Linked DNA regions of Homo sapiens. The protein of the gene in region 4 purifies or fractionates together with the protein of the main gene of each other region. This does not show direct contact. Each region holds a gene or a part of one and is shown on either strand. Other genes may lie near its edges.

The links. The genes of interacting proteins can lie anywhere in the genome.
Region 1: the proteins of QSOX2 (region 4) and C2CD5 purify together in Homo sapiens (affinity purification with mass spectrometry; one large-scale study listed by BioGRID and IntAct). This does not show direct contact.
Region 2: the proteins of QSOX2 (region 4) and SYT11 fractionate together in Homo sapiens (co-fractionation; one large-scale study listed by BioGRID). This does not show direct contact.
Region 3: the proteins of QSOX2 (region 4) and CELA3A purify together in Homo sapiens (co-immunoprecipitation; one large-scale study listed by IntAct). This does not show direct contact.

Annotation. Positions count from the first base shown.
Region 1 is NC_000012.12:22,520,543-22,524,244, forward strand, and holds part of C2CD5 (C2 domain-containing protein 5), read right to left. Parts: intron 3,083-3,702; coding exon 2,884-3,082; intron 1-2,883. UniProt on the Homo sapiens protein: Required for insulin-stimulated glucose transport and glucose transporter SLC2A4/GLUT4 translocation from intracellular glucose storage vesicle (GSV) to the plasma membrane (PM) in adipocytes.
Region 2 is NC_000001.11:155,879,865-155,883,566, reverse strand, and holds part of SYT11 (synaptotagmin-11), read right to left. Parts: intron 3,068-3,702; coding exon 2,944-3,067; intron 2,379-2,943; coding exon of another isoform or gene 2,370-2,378; coding exon 2,059-2,369; 3' UTR 1-2,058. UniProt on the Homo sapiens protein: Synaptotagmin family member involved in vesicular and membrane trafficking which does not bind Ca(2+). Inhibits clathrin-mediated and bulk endocytosis, functions to ensure precision in vesicle retrieval.
Region 3 is NC_000001.11:22,007,955-22,011,656, reverse strand, and holds part of CELA3A (chymotrypsin-like elastase family member 3A preproprotein), read right to left. Parts: intron 1,953-3,702; coding exon 1,800-1,952; intron 1-1,799. UniProt on the Homo sapiens protein: Efficient protease with alanine specificity but only little elastolytic activity.
Region 4 is NC_000009.12:136,242,957-136,247,422, forward strand, and holds the start of QSOX2 (sulfhydryl oxidase 2 precursor), read right to left. Parts: upstream 2,857-4,466; 5' UTR 2,848-2,856; coding exon 2,520-2,847; intron 1-2,519. UniProt on the Homo sapiens protein: Catalyzes the oxidation of sulfhydryl groups in peptide and protein thiols to disulfides with the reduction of oxygen to hydrogen peroxide. May contribute to disulfide bond formation in a variety of secreted proteins.

The DNA of each region.
Region 1 (3,702 bases), on a different chromosome or scaffold from region 4:
TTGGTGATCTACTTTTACACCAAAAAATGAGTAAGGTTTTGTTTTTGTTTTTATTTCTCCACTGAAGTGAGAAAAAGTATAAGAATTCTCAAAAAGAATTAAAAAATCCAAGACTTAAAAATAAACAATGCTATATTTATTATAATCAGTAGTATACACAGGAGAATTTGTCTCGTAGTACTTTTTTTAAGTAAAGAAGCAATAACTCATACTTAAAAGCACTTTCTATTGTCAAGAGAGTTAAGCTGGAAAACACCAAAGGGATTTATAGTGTGCATGACACTAAACATCAAAAAGAAAAAAACTTAGGAAGTAGAACACACCATTAATGTAGGTAAAATAAAATGAAAAAACTAAAATGAACAGTGTAAAATGTTCAAACTATGGCATCAAATTAAAATTCAAATACACTGGAACATCACCATAATGTACTCTTGGAGTTTTCTGATTCGATCAGTCTCTCTGCATGAAAGGATGCCTCATAATAACCTGTGGTATTTATAATATTAATATTCCTTTCCAGTCAGTCAATAACATAATCTAAACCACCTTTTATCAAATTCCTGTCTAGAATCAACAATATTACATAATTAAATACCAGAATAGTTATAATCAGCTGAATCATAAAATAGGCTTTGAAATAGAACCCAAATTGCTTCATTCTCAAAAAATACAATGAAGCCAGTTGAAATAAAACAGCCTGAGTATTGAGGGTTTTTAAAAAATAACTTGACTTAATTAGTAAGATGCCTTTTAGAAAATCCTAAGGAAGGAACTTACGTCCATCATGAGGCTACAACAAGATTAGAAAAGGAGAAAACGTATACAATCCCAGAAGATTTACACTAATAGAACTCTTCCTGAATGCATGCAAAACATATCCCCTTGCTCTCTGTATTTCATTCTAAGGAACCAACAGGTAATATAGCTTTGTCATTCTCCTTCCACTAGGTAACTTACTTAAATTTGCTTAAACTTGCACTTTAATTTGCTAGTAAATATTTACTTAAATTTGCTACAGAGAGAGGGAAAAAAATCTGAATACCTCAAAAAGCTAAACCTGCAATCTGACTCTACTGCTGGCAGCTGGCAATTCTTATCTTTCTAGGAGATATTTTAAATGGAATATAAAGCAAATTCATTCTTCGATTTATTTAAAACAATTATTTCATTTGCCAATGTGTTTCCAAATAAAATTAAGCAGTATGTAACACTGTGCTTCCTCTTATGAATAAAATTCAACCCAAATGACTAATGGCCAGCAGAAATAAAATGGCTAACAAAAAGAATGCACTTAGGATAAAGATGAAAATTTCACTTTAAAAAAGATGGTGAAAAAACATGTTTTTTCATACTATGATACCTTTCTATTCAACCCCTCCTGACTACTGAACTGGGAAACATTTTAGGTTTCCTGACTATACAACTCTGACTCCCTGATTATCTAGGACAGGAGTCCACAAACTACAGACTGCAGTCCGAATCTGTCCTACCATCTGTTTTGTAAGTAAGTTTTATTTGAACACAGTCACACTGTATTCACTTGCATACTGTTTATGTTTGCTTTTGTGCTACAATGGCAGTTATGAAGTAGCATCAGCAAAAACTAAATCATTTACCTGTACCATTTGGTCATTCACAGAAAAAGTTTGCCAACCCTTGACTTAGAAGAATCTCTAGATGAGTGGTCTTCAACCGAAGTACTAAAGGCATTTAGGATGAAACAAGTCTTCATTGTATAGGGTTGTCCCTTGCTGTGCGGGATAGTCAGCGTTTTTAGTCCCCAACAGGACCTAGCACCCTAATCATTATGACTGAAAAATCTTGTTCCAAACACTCTGTGATGACAGTCATGACCACCATCATGTTGAAAATCTCTGCCTCTGACACAATGATGACACACACAGGCCAAATCAAGCCAACAGAAGTGTTTTGCAGGATCACACATAGATTTTCTAAAATGCATGACTCTAAATTTCTTTAGAATAGGGATCAGCAAACTCCTTTTTTTGTAAATAAAGACAAGAGATTGTATGGGCAGACCCTAAAGTATTGGCCTTTCCCAGAAAAAGTTTGCCAACCTTGGCTTTACAAGCAGCAGTATACTCTATTTAATTACACTCAGTTAGTTTATTCATATAAACTCCCTGGCCTCTAGACATTTGAGTTTAACACTTCTGCACAAATCAATTTTTCCTGCTTTATATACTATGTGGCCATTAATAAGTATAATTGGATTATCTGGTAGAGGGTTTTAAGTATTCCTCAGAAAATAAAATGCCACACAATGCTTGAATATTCATTTTATGCTTTATATATGCAGTGTCTAAATATCTGGAATAAGTTTAATTTTATATTACTTAATTTGTTTCATATTAAGATGGCATAGGCAGGGCACAGTGGCTCACACCTGTAAATCCCAGCATTTTGGGAGGTCAAGGCAGGTAGATCACTTGAGCCCAGGAGTTTGAGACCAGGCTAGGCAACATGACAAAACCCCATCTCTACTAAAAATACAAAAGTTAGCTGGGCGTGGTGGCCTGCCCCTGTAGTCCCAGCTACTCAGGCGGCTGAGGTGGGAGGATCACCTGAGCCTAGAAGGTCAAGGCTGCAGTGAGCCAAGACTGTGCCACTGAACTCCAGCCTGGGCAACAGAGCAAGACCCTGTCACAAAAAATAAAAATAAAAATAAATAAGACGGTATAAATAAAATATTAGGAATATTTAAATATTTTTAAGTTTTAAATTTTGACAGTCATCACCAATAAAAATCATCACAGAGAAAATGTTGAACAACCCTACTAAAATGTTTCAAATCAAATGAAAAAGCATAGATAAAAGATAAAAATCTTAGCAAGAACAATTTCATTGATTCATACTTACTCCTTCATTTCTTTGGATGGGGAATTACATGCAGGAAGGAATGCTGCTGGGCTACTTAATTTATCCAGAGTACACGCCGTTCCTATGGCTCGCACCACTAACCCAGACTCGCCCTCCAGATCGAAACACTGTAAGTACCCCACAACTGCATTTCCTCTCATTTCAAGTACTTTCAAGCCAATCTTCCTCTGCAGCTCACCTACAAAACATGGGAAATCTCATTCTTGCTTTGTAGCTTTACATTACATACTATAAGACTGGACATGGTAGTGGTAAAAAAAAAAAAAAAGACCAAGAAAATCACAGATTTTCAGAACTTGAAGGAAACTTAAAAGATAATCTGGTTTAGCCTCTACAGAATACAGAACATAATTCTATTACAATATAGCATAATTATAAAATATAATATATACTTATACAGCACAAATATATAGAATAAAAACAAATATATTTGCTATATAAATATAACATTGATACTTTGTGTGAAATACATGTATGAATATATATTCACACATATACACATATAACTCTTAATATAAATGTAAATTTTAAATAAAACAGTAAACAAGTTTTTCAAAGAAAAATTTAAAAAGGGAATGAGGTCAGAGTGGCAGGGAAAGTGGTCAAAAGGATAGAGGGAACTACAGTACCTAGGGAGGAACTGTGAAAAGGCAACATCTGAACAGAAAGTATGAGAGACAGAAGAAGGTGATTTGCTTAAGCTCTGACAAATAAATGGTAGATGAAGGAAAACTAGAATCCAGGTTCCCACTCAGGGTTCCTTCCTGAACGCCCCTTGCTCAGCGCTCTTTCCACTAC
Region 2 (3,702 bases), on a different chromosome or scaffold from region 4:
AGTTTATTTTAATTAATTAATTAATTAATTTTTGAGACAGGATCTCACTCTGTTACCCAGCCCAGAGTGCAGTGGCATGATCATGGCTCACTGCAGCCTCTACCTCTGGGCTCAAATGATCCTCCCACCTCAGCCTCCTGAATAGCTGGGACCACAGGCGTGCAGCACCACACCTAGTTAATTTTTTGTATTTTTGATAGAGATGGAGTTTCGTCATGTAGCCCAGGCTGGTCTTGAACTCCTGGGCTCAAGCGATCTTTCCACCTCGGCCTCCCAAAATACTGGGATTACAGGCGTGAGCCACTGCGCCCGGCCCCAAGTTTACCTATTATCCATGGAGTCTGTGCCATCTGCAAAGTCTCAACGTTGGAGACACAGCTGCTGTAGGAGTAAAGAGACTTGAATTCTAATCCCAGAAAGATGCTGAATCTCTCTCAACCTCTATTGCCCATTGGTAGAAGAAGAATTGCATCCTGTAGTTCCTCCATCCCTCCACCATGTGGTAAGACATAAATTCCAAGAATTATGCAGCTCGTTTTGAGGAAAAGAATGCTCTGAAAGAATCCAACTTATCTTCATTCACTCAGTCACACTGTTATTTTTTTAAGAGCTAAATTTTTATTGAAAAATTTAAGGAGAACTTCTGAGGGCCCCTGTTTTATGAAGCAAAGCTAACCTCATTACAACATCTAAGCTATTTGAGAAGACTCTAAAGCATCTCCATGGTCGGCATTTCCAGAAAAACAAAGGCCAGTGTAATTCTTCAAACCTCTGATGACTTCCAACCCATCAACCAAGAAATGGCTGTCACTACAGTAGATAGCTGCAAAGGGGAATGGCTGTCGTCACTTGTCTCCTCTCCTTGTCCTTATACCTGAAAACAGCTTTTGGGATCAGCTGGATGTGTTCATTGGTACTATCCTATAGCTGAATTTGAAGTTTCCAAAGCTCCTTTTAGAGAAGTCATCAAGTTTGATAAAATCCAAGTTCTGATGTCTTGGATGCATAAGTCTGATGTATTCTCTGTGCTTCAGTTAGGTCTGTCAGTTAATTATAGACTGCCTTTTACTACTTCATAGCAGAAGAGCTGATAGCAAAAATACCCCATTTCTCAATTCCTCTTTCTCCTGCAAACCTTGCCTCATCCACCCCACCTTTGTTTCTTGGCTTACTGCAGACCTCTAGACCTTGAGGTCAAAGAGCAGAGATATAAGAGGCAATAAAAAGAAAAGATGGGAATGATGAAAACATGAGGTTTTATAAGAGCAAAATTTTCTTCTGCAGAGGTGGGGAGTGGGAGAAATTCTCCAGAGAAGCCCAATAAAAAGAAGCCAATTTCAGGTAATCAGCAAATACAATTCAGCACAAAACACAATTTCCATGGATTAAAATCTGCAACTTGATATTGGCAGTTAGGCTAATTTCTTCAGTTTGTATTAGACATGCAAGTATATGGTTACATTGTTATATATAGATTTATAGGGGTCTTTCCCTCTCTTTTGTCCCCCATTAAAAAAAAAAAACAAAACAAAACCAGAGGCCGGGCACGGTGGCTCGCACCTGTAATCCCAGCACTTTGGGAGGCCGAGGCGGGTGGATCACCTGAGGTCTGGAATTCGAGACCAGCCTGGCCAACATGGTGAAACCCATCTCTACTGAAAATACAAAAAATTAGCCGGGCATGCTCGTGGGTGCCTGTAATCCCAGCTACTTGGGAGGCTGAGGGAGGAGAATCACTTGAACCTGGAGGGCAGAGGTTGCAGTGAGTTGAGATCTCACCATTGCACTCCAGCCCGGGCAACAAGAGCGAAACTCCACCTCAAAAAAAATAAAGTAAAATAAAAGATTCTAGCGCCTTGCAAAGCAGAAAAAAAAACATCATTGCTAAGAACTGATCTGCAGCTGTGGTCATATAGGGTGTTCTTTGTGGAATTTGTTTTGTAAGAAATTTTCTTCTACAACTAAAATGAGGTTTGGAGTCCACTTCTCTGTCATCTTTTTCCCCTCCACATCCCTCCCCAGCTTGGCCCCCGGGGATTAGAGGAGAGAAGAACAGGATTAGTACTCGCTCAGACTGTGCCACTTGGCCACAGGCTTGCGGGGGCTCTCGCAGACCTCTCTCCAGTGTTCAGCACCACTGGCTGTGACACTGTGTGCCCCCAGGATCAGCCTCCCCACCACCTCATTCTTGGTGGTGCGATCGAAGTCGATAACGAGGAACTCGATGCTGATATCAGGCAGGAGGTCAGTGGGGATGTCGTAGATGAAAGATTCATTGAAGATGGGGTTCAAAGTGCACTTCTTCACATGGGTTTTCTTCTTGGCAATGCGCTTTCTGCCGTAGTAGACGTTCACCTTGACATAAGGATCTGGGGCCCCCAAAGAGATAAGAAAAAGGGAGACAGACCTATGACACAGTCCTCTCCTATGTAATGGTAATTTCATGTTGGGAAAGGGGGGGCTCTGTTGTTCGTATCTTTGATGGCCATCCCATGTGTTCTTTAGTGATTGCACAATAAACACACACTGACTATATGTGAGTCTGCCTGCCTGGATGAGGGGCCAAGGAAACCAAGCAGGAATAGAACAGAACAACTTTCTCAGGTTAGGTCTGAAGAAATCCCATGATACCAAGAAGTATATTAAAGGGCACAGAGACAAATGCCTGCAGCCTTTTTGAGAAGTCTCTCTTAGCACCTGGCATGAATATTATTTAGGATACCTTGCCAAATGTAAAGACCCCATTTGTTCAACTGAAGAATCTTCCTAGCCAGGGAAATCTATTGGACGTAGATACTCATCAGGAAGAGAATGTCTACAGAAAGAGGAGCAGATTAAAAGTGAAAGAGGCAAGGATCTTGAAGTGTGGAGGTCTATCTGGGCCACAGGCAAGGAGTCGGGGATGGTTCAGACAGTAAGAAATAGGTTGAAGTAAATAGCTGCTACCTGAGAGACCGGTGATATCCATCTTCGGCAAGTGTCTGGCTTTGAGGACCACCACTGTCATTCTCTGTGCCACAGGCTGATATGACAGAGACACCTGGAGCTCCCCTCTGCTGATGCACTTCTGTGAGGAAAAAATGGCAGGTGAGAATCCTGGCAGAGGGTGCAGGGCAGAGCACAAAAAGTGTGCAGAGCAGTGGGAAGAGTCTGGGGGAGGACAAGTGCAGGGATGATAAGTTTTTTGGAAAGATGCTCATCCCCTGGAAAGGTGTTATGATTTTATTTAACAAGGAGGGAGAAAGGAAACATTATAACCATAATTCTGATATTAAATAATTTGCATGGAGAGCCCACATAGCCTTGGATTTATGAGCATGACCTCTGGAGCCAGATTAGCCTGGATTCAAATCCTGACTATTTCTCTTTTTTTTTGAGACAGGTTCTCACTCTGTTGCCCAGATTGGAATTCAGTGACGTGATCTTGGCTCACTGCAGCCTCCATCTCCTGGACTCTAGCAATCCTCCCACCTCAGCCTCCTGAGTAGCTAGGACTACAGGTGTGTGCCACCACATCTGGCTAATTTTTCTTTTTTCTATACACAGAGTCTCACTGTGTAGCCCAGGCTGGTCTTGAATTCCTGGTCTCAAGTGATCCTCCCGCCTCAGCCTCCCAAAATGCTGGGATTACAGGCATAAGCCACCATGCCCAGTTGCTATTTCTTATCTGTGACCTTGGACAAGTTACTCAACATCTCTGTA
Region 3 (3,702 bases), on a different chromosome or scaffold from region 4:
TCCCAAGTAGCTGAGATTACAGCGACGCACTACCACGCCTGGCCAATTTTTTTATATTTTTGTAGAGACAGGGTTTCACCATATTGGCCAGGCTGGTCTCGAACTCCTGACCTTGTGATCCACCTGCCTTGGCCTACCAAAGTGCTTGGATTACAGGCATGAGCCACCGTGCCTGGCCTTATATATATATTTTTTTAACATGGGTCAGGGAACCAAGGGATTAAATGGTCTATAAATCATCACTGTTTTTTTGTTTGTTTGTTTGTTTTTGTTTTTGAGATGGAGTCTTGCTCTGTCACCCAGGCTGGAGTGCAGTGGCGTAATCTCGGCTCACTGCAACCTCCGCCTCCCAGATTCAAGCAGTTCTCCTGCCTCAGCCTCCTGAGTAGCTGGGACCACAGGCATGCACCAATACGCCCGGCTAATTTTTTGTATTCTTAGTAGAGATGGGGTTTCACCATGTCGGCCAGGCTGGTCTTGAACTCCTGACCTCAGGTGATCCATGGGCCTTGGCCTCCCAGAGTGCTGGGATTACAGGCATGAACCACTGCACTCGACCAGAAATGTTTTTTTATTGGAAGGCTTCATGACTTTGCATGTCATCCTTGCGCAGGGGCCGTGCTAATCTCTATATCATTCCAATTTTAGTACATGTGCTGCCAAAGCAAGCACTACTGTTTTATTTTATTTAGTTTATTTTCATTTTTTTAAGAGAGAGGCTCTTGCTGTGTTGCCCAGGCTGGAGTACAGTGGCTATTCACAGGTGTGATCCTACTACTTTTCAGCATGTGAGTTTTGACCTGCTCTGTTTCTGACCTGGGACAGTTCACCCCTCCTTAGGCCACCTGGTGGTCCCCACTCCCAGGAGGTCACCACATTGATGCCAAACTTGGTGCAGAACCTGATGGGTATAGCGCACTATGGCCCAGAACTCCAGGGCTCAACCGATCCTCCTGCCTCAGCCTCCCAAGTAGCTGGGACTACAGGTGGGCATCACTGCACCCAGCTAGCTATTACTCTTTTTTTTTTTTTTTTTTTTTTGAGACGGAGTCTCGCTCTGTCACCCAGGCTGCAGTGCAGTGGTATGATCTCGACTAACTGCAACCTCCACCTCCCAGGTTCAAGCAATTCTCTGCCTGAGCCTCCCAAGCAGCTGGGATTACAGGCACCCACCACCATGCCCGGCTAATTTTTGTATTTTTAGTAGAGACAGGGTTTCACCATCTTGGCCAGGCTGGTCTTGAACTCCTAACCTCGTGATCCACCTGCCTCTGCTTCCCAAAGTGCTGGGATTACAGGCATGACTATGCCATGCCCAGCTATTACTCTCTTTTTTTTTGTTGTTTAGCTATTACTGTTACCATGAGCGTTATTAGTCCTCTCTGATCACCCATCCCCAGATGAAGTCTGGGGCCTGGACTCCCCTCTCTCGGCTCTCATCAGACTGCATCGTTCTCATTCATGTAATCACCTGTCCCCCACCAGGCAGCCTCTTGTCTGGCATGTCTCTCTATCCTCCCTGACAAGAGAGGACAAGACCAGAGGAGATACTTTATAAATACTTGTTGAAATAAGGAAGTTCAGCTGTAGTTCCAAGCACCACCCAGAAGCCATCAAGTTCCTGGGGTCACACTGTATCAGAAAACATCCCCAAGCCTTTCTGGAATGTCCCCAAGGGCCCTTCCCCACTGAGCTTCTAGGATCCTTTCAGGCCCTCCCCAGGATCCGATGTTTCTCACCTGTCACCTCTCAGAAGAGCCACCACCCTAAAGCCCTCCGGGCCGCCCTGCCCTCCTCACCTCCTCAATCCAGTCGATGAAGGCGGAGACTCGAGTGAACACCGTGGGCTTCCAGATGAAGTTGCAGCCAAAGGCAGAAACAAAGCTGGTCACACCGTGGACCTGCCAGCCACCATCCTCTGTGGGGCAGTTGAGGGGTCCTCCAGAGTCACCCTGGAACCGTCAGAGAGGAGTGGGTGGCTGAGCCATGTCTGAGGTTTACGGAACTGGTTCTGAATTCTAGGGATTTCAAGAAACTCTGACATTACTTGACACCTCTGAGCCTTAGCTCGCTCATTTTTTTATCATTTATTATTTTTATTTTTTTAGATGGAGTCTCGCTCTGCTGTCCAGGCTGGAGTGCAGTGGCGCAAGCTTGGCTCATTGCAACCTCCGTCTCCCGGCTCCCAGGTTCAAGTGATTCTCCTGCTTCAGCCTCCCAAGTAGCTGGGATTACAGGCACCTGCCACCACACCCGGCTAATTTTTGTTTATTTATTTATTTATTTTTTATTAGAGACGAAGTCTCACTCTGACGCCCAGGCTGGAGTACAGTGGCAGGATCTCAGCTCACTGCAAGCTCTGCCTCCAGGGTTCACGCCATTCTCCTGCCTCAGCCTCCCAAGTAGCTGGGACTATAGGTGCCCACTACCACGCCCGGCTAATTTTTGTATTTTTCGTAGAGACGGGGTTTCACCGTGTTAGCCAGGATGGTCTCGATCTCCTGACCACGTGATCCGCCCGCCTCAGCCTCCCGAAGTGCTGGGATTACAGGCGTGAGTCACTGCACCCAGCCATATTTAATAGAGATGGGATTTCACCATGTTGGCCAGGTTAGTCTCAAAGTCCTGACCTCAGGTGATCCACCTGCCGGGGCCTCCCAAAGGGATTATAGGTGTGAGCCACCACGCCCAGCCAGCTGACTCATTTGTGATAGGGAATAGTAGTATCTGTCCAAGAGCCTAGGGAATTACATGAGATGATGCACGATCTTAGCACGATATCCAGTAGAGAAGAAGCACTCGATAAACATAGTTCTTATTAGTGGCACCATAGTTAATTATTAATTCATACTCAATTACAATACAATGAGGGTATTTGATAGTATTTTTTTTTTTTCTGAGTCAGCGTCTCGCTCTGTCACCCAGGTTGGAGTGCAGTGGCGCGATCTCGGCTCACGGCAAGCTCCAACTCCTGGGTTCACACCATTCTCCTGCCTCAGCCTCCCGAGTAGCTGGGACTACAGGCGCCCACCACCACACCCGGCTAACTTTTTGTGTGTTTAGTAGAGACGAGGTTTCACCATGTTAGCCAGGATGATCTCGATCTCCTGACCTCGTGATCCGCCCGGCTCGGCCTCCCAAAGTGCTGGGATTACAGGCGTGAGCCACCGCGCCCAGCCTTTGTTTTTTTTTCTTAGACAAGGTCTTGGCCAGGAAAGTGGCTCACATCTGTAAACATAACACTTTGGAAGGCCAAGGCAGGAGGATTACTTGAGCCCAAGAGTTAGAGACCAGCCTGGGCAACATGGTGAGACCTCATCTCTACAAAAAATTTAAAAATTAGCTAGGCATTGTGGCACACACTTGTACTCCTGGCTGCTTGGGAGGCTGACATTGGAGGGTTGCTTGAGCCCAGGAGGGCAAGGCTACAGTGGGCTATGATGGCATTACTGCACTCCAGCCTGGGCAACAGAGCAAGATCCTGTCTCAAAAAAAAAAAAAAAAGAGACAACGTCTTGCTGTGTCGCCAGGCTTGGGTGCAGTGGCAAAAATCATAGCCACTGTGAGCTTGAACTCCCAGGCTCAAACAATCCTCCCACCTCAGCCTATCAAGTAGTTGGGACTACAGGCGAGTGCCACCATGCCTGACTAAGTAAAAAAAGTTTTTCTGTAGATGGGCATCTCACTATATTACCTAGGCTG
Region 4 (4,466 bases):
AACCTGAGGAAAGAAATTCCAGGCCCTGACGGCAAGGGAGGTCAGACACGCCTGGTTACATCACCTCCCTTTGGAGTTTAGGCAGAGCTGACCAGCGTGATGAAACAGAGATCACAGACAGACAGCACAGCCTCAGCAGCAACGACACCAAACTCCAGCCTGACTCGGGTACAGCACCACATGACAAATAGCACACCCTGCAGGAAATCAAAATATTTCACCCCCAAATACATTTATTTCCCTGACATATTTGAAATGGTCCTGCAAAGCTGTCTTTTGTGAGGGAAATTTGCATCTGTAGAGAATCTCCCTCCCTTTCTAGGTCTTTCCTGGATCTAGGAGACATTTAACGAGTCTGACAGCATTCAGGTCTGAAAAGAGACATTTACCCTCTATTCTCCCCAAGGCTGCTGCCTGTGAGGCTTCATCTACTTAACCTTGGCCTCCACAGCCCCTTTAGCTTAACTCAAGCATTTCTCTTTGCTGACTTCAAGTCTTTAGACAAAGCTTAACTCTTTCAATCAATTGCCAGTCAGAATCCACCTATGATCTGTAAACCTACCCCTTCCTATACCTTACATGTACTGATTTATGTCTCTCTGCCTATAACTTCTGTCTCCCTAAAATGTATAAAATCAAATTAACGTGACTGCCTAGAGCACACTTTCTTAGGACCTCTTGACACTGTTCCCCTGGCCATGGCCACTACACTTATTGGCTCAGAACAAACCTCTTTCAGTATTTTATAGTTTGGCTTTTTAGCCAACAGGACCCTCTGCCTGGGCTCCCTGAAGCCCTCTCCCTGCTGCCTGGTCAGGTCACCGCTGTCTTTCACTTTCAGCCATATCCTCCTCCAGTCTCAGTCTCAGGCACAAGCCTGTTCTTCCTGTCGTGACTGGGAAGACAGTCAGCCTCACTAAAGGAGGCTTACTGAGTTGAGTTCATCACACCACTGGGTATGGACGTTACTGTGTGGCTCTCAGGAGGGGCCTTCCTTCTGAGCTCCAGGGACAGTTCTCAAGGCTGCCTATGTGCTGCTTCGGTTACAGAATTTGCAATATTTGAATCTGGTACGATCTTTAGACTTCAGCGACTCAACTGAAAAAAAAAAATCAAAACCAAAACCCACAAAAAAAGTGACCAAGTCCTGCCAGGGCCACCTGCATTTTAATGAACATATCTGTTTCTGCCACTGAATAACACACAAGAACTGAAGGGTTCCCTACGTGATTGAATTACTTGTTTGTTTTCCTAAAAGCAGTGTCTAAAAACCCCACTGAACAGTTTTTCTGTCCATCTCTTCCAGTCTCTGACCTCAGTTCTGAGTCAGGTCAACAGGGACATAAGAAAACATGAGATCAAAGAGGAGGAATCCATTAGAATCAAAAGGCCCCAGCTCTCTAAGAGGAGAATGCATTTTAAAGATAACCATTTACAGTAACATACAAAAGCCCTACTTAGACTTGAAAAAAAGTTTCTTTACAAATCTGTTTGCGATGAGAAAAATACAGCAGGATTGGGTGTAAGGCATAAAAACAAAGGTGCAGGAAGAAAGAGTAGCAATTTGTTACAGATCTTGCCCACTGAAACATGTAATTTGAGGTTAGCACAACACAGGAAGTCCTGCCAAACCTCACTGGGTCGGGAGGACCTCCTACTTCAGTGATTTAAATACCATTTTAAGGGAAGGGTGTTGTGAATGCCCCCTCCCACGCCAACTCTAACCTGTAGAGCAGGCGAGTAACTTCGTGACTGGTTAACAACGTGCGACCAGATGAAAGCACTAAACAATAAAGTGCGGAACACTACCAGCAGTTTGGTGAAAGATTTCTCAAAGGCTGTGCATCTGTGATCAAGGAGCCCACCAATGAAATTCTTTGTAGAGTTAAAAAAATTGCTTTATAGGTTGTTTTGGGGTATTATAGAGAAGTCTCCAGAGTATTTGGACTTCTAAGTTGTGGGTTCACTTTGAGCACCCACTATATGGCCAGCGATCCGAACCAGAAAGTTAATGATGAAGGTTCAAAGGGAATGGGGTGGCTACGAGTGTGGAATAGGAATGAGGGATCCTCAGAGAACAGGAATTCTGGGCACTGGGGATGGGGTGTGTGGACGCTAGGAAACAGGTAGGGTAGGAGGCCTGGAAGGTCAATGAAGTTCTTGGGGCTCAAAACATAGGTATTTTGAGAGCTGGGATACGGGAGGGCTTCCCTATCCCCAAGCGTGCGGTGAGGGCTGCGGGAGAATGGTTTCATTTTGACTTCAGACAGCCCAACTCGTCAGGATCTAACGGGGATTAACTGGGAGAGACATGGGGAGCAGCTGGCTTAGTCTCCCGCCCCTGGAAAGGCCAGGGTTGGTCCGAGTCGGGTGCCTCTGTGGGGCAGGGACTGGCTCTGCGGTAAGGAAAGAAATACGGGGGAGGGGCCCCGGGACCCGCCTTCTGGGGCGGTCGCAAGGGGTCCCGGAAGGCCGCGGTCCCGGGGGTCGGGGGGTCCCCGCGCGGGGGCGCGCCTCACCTCGCACATCCCCAGCCAGGGCCCGCCAAGTGGGCGCGTAGCCGATGCAGTGGCCACACCACGACGAGTAGAACTGCACGAGCCACGCGGCCGAGCTGTTGGCGGTGGCCCCGCGCACGCTGCCGCTGTCCAGCACCCACACGGCGTCCTCGCCCGCGCGGTACAGCCGCGCCGCACCGCCCGCGCCCGGCCCCACCGCCGCCGCCGCTAGCAGCACTAGCAGCCGCGGCAGCCGTGCGGCCCGCGGCGGGGGCGAGCGCCGGGCTCTCAGCGCAGGTCCCGCTCCGATTCCCGGGCTGCGCGCCACCGCCGCCCCGGCCGCCGCCATGTTGGAAGTGCCGCCGGCGCGCTGAACTTTCACCCTGGCAACCACCGTCACGTGCGCCGGCGCGCCCGGCCCCGCCCCCGCGCGCCCAGTTCTGTTCCGCCCCGCCCCCTCACGTCTGACCCCGCCCTCTCTCCCCGCCCCCGCCCCCGCCCATGCGTGGCAGCCCCGCCCCCAAGAGTCTGATGACGCCATCTCCCCGCCCAGGCGCGGCAGGCTCCGCCCAGGCCCCGCCCCACCCCGCCGCGCGTTCCCCAAACCCCTTCCCTGAACAGGGCCAGGTGGCCACATTTAGCAAATGGAAGTGCACGACGCCAGGTTCAACGTGAATTTCAGACAAACAGTGAGTCGGTTTTTCAGCCTAGGTCTGTGCCATGCCTGAAATACAAATTTAACAAGACATTCTTAGACGTAAAAAACTATTCCGGGGTTCTTTTACTTGGCAACCCCACCTGGGGCTTCAGAGGGTCTGCAAGCCAGCCTCGACTTTTTAATATGATATTGGAACGCTTAGAAAATGCAGCAAAACATCCACTCAAAGTCAGATGTGTTGTGTGCTACCTTTTAGGATGTTCCAGTCGAATGCAGCTTCACGGTTTGGAAATGAAATCATATGACTTTTTTGCTTCATTGAACAGGATACCTGATTTTTTTTTTTGTTCCTATTCCTAATTTTTACACATGTCAAGATTTTCTCTGAACTGTGTGACCAAAACAAAACAAGGGAGTGGGCGAGCCTGGGCAACATAGCGAGAGCCCATCTCTTAAAAAAAAGAAAAAAGCCGGGCATGGTGGTGCACACCTGTAGTCCCAGCTACTTGAGGGGCTAAGGTGGAGGATGGCTTGAGCCTGGGAGCTTGAGGCTGCAGTGAGCCGTGACTCTGCCACTGCACTCCAGCCTGGATGACAGAGCGAGACCTTGTCTCAAAATAAATAGATAACTGTATTGTGGGGTTCTGTGTAAGATTTTGTTTAAAAGGTTTTGCTGCTAACAATGGTTAACCCCAGATGAGAGGATTCTCCCCAGAGGGCCCCTGGCCAAGGCGTCTGCTCCCTTTTCCTCACGTCCTGCGTCTCCCTGTTCATGTTTCCTTCCATCACCCACGTTTCCTGGCTTCTGCTCTGTGCCAAGCCCTGGAGACAAATCAAGAACAAAACCGAGCCCCCAGTGTCCCTGGCCTGCATTTGGGCAGACCCCAAACAAACCAACGCGTAAAGCAGCCACCGCGTGCTATGAAAAGCAATGAAGCCGGACACGGAAGCAGGTGCCAGCAGGGCTGCCGTACAGAGGAGGGTGGGGAGGTCTTTGAGAAGGTGACCCGAATGGAGAAGGAGGTGAGGGAGGAGGCACACATGCAAAGGCCCTGGGGCAGAAGGGTGCTGAGCACGCTGGAGGAACAGCAAGGAGCCGGACCTGGTGGGAGCGGAGCAAGCTGGGGGAAGCGTGGGAGGGAAGAAAAGCTGAGAGCCCGAGCGAGACCCAGGGGGCCTCACAACCTGGGCCGCAGACTCAGACTTTGATGCTGAATGGGGGGGTGGCCACGGAAGGATCGGTGCAAGGATGCAGCTCTGCCCTTCTAGTTGCAGAGTAGGAGGGGCAGGAGGGGAAGCAGGGGACCTGG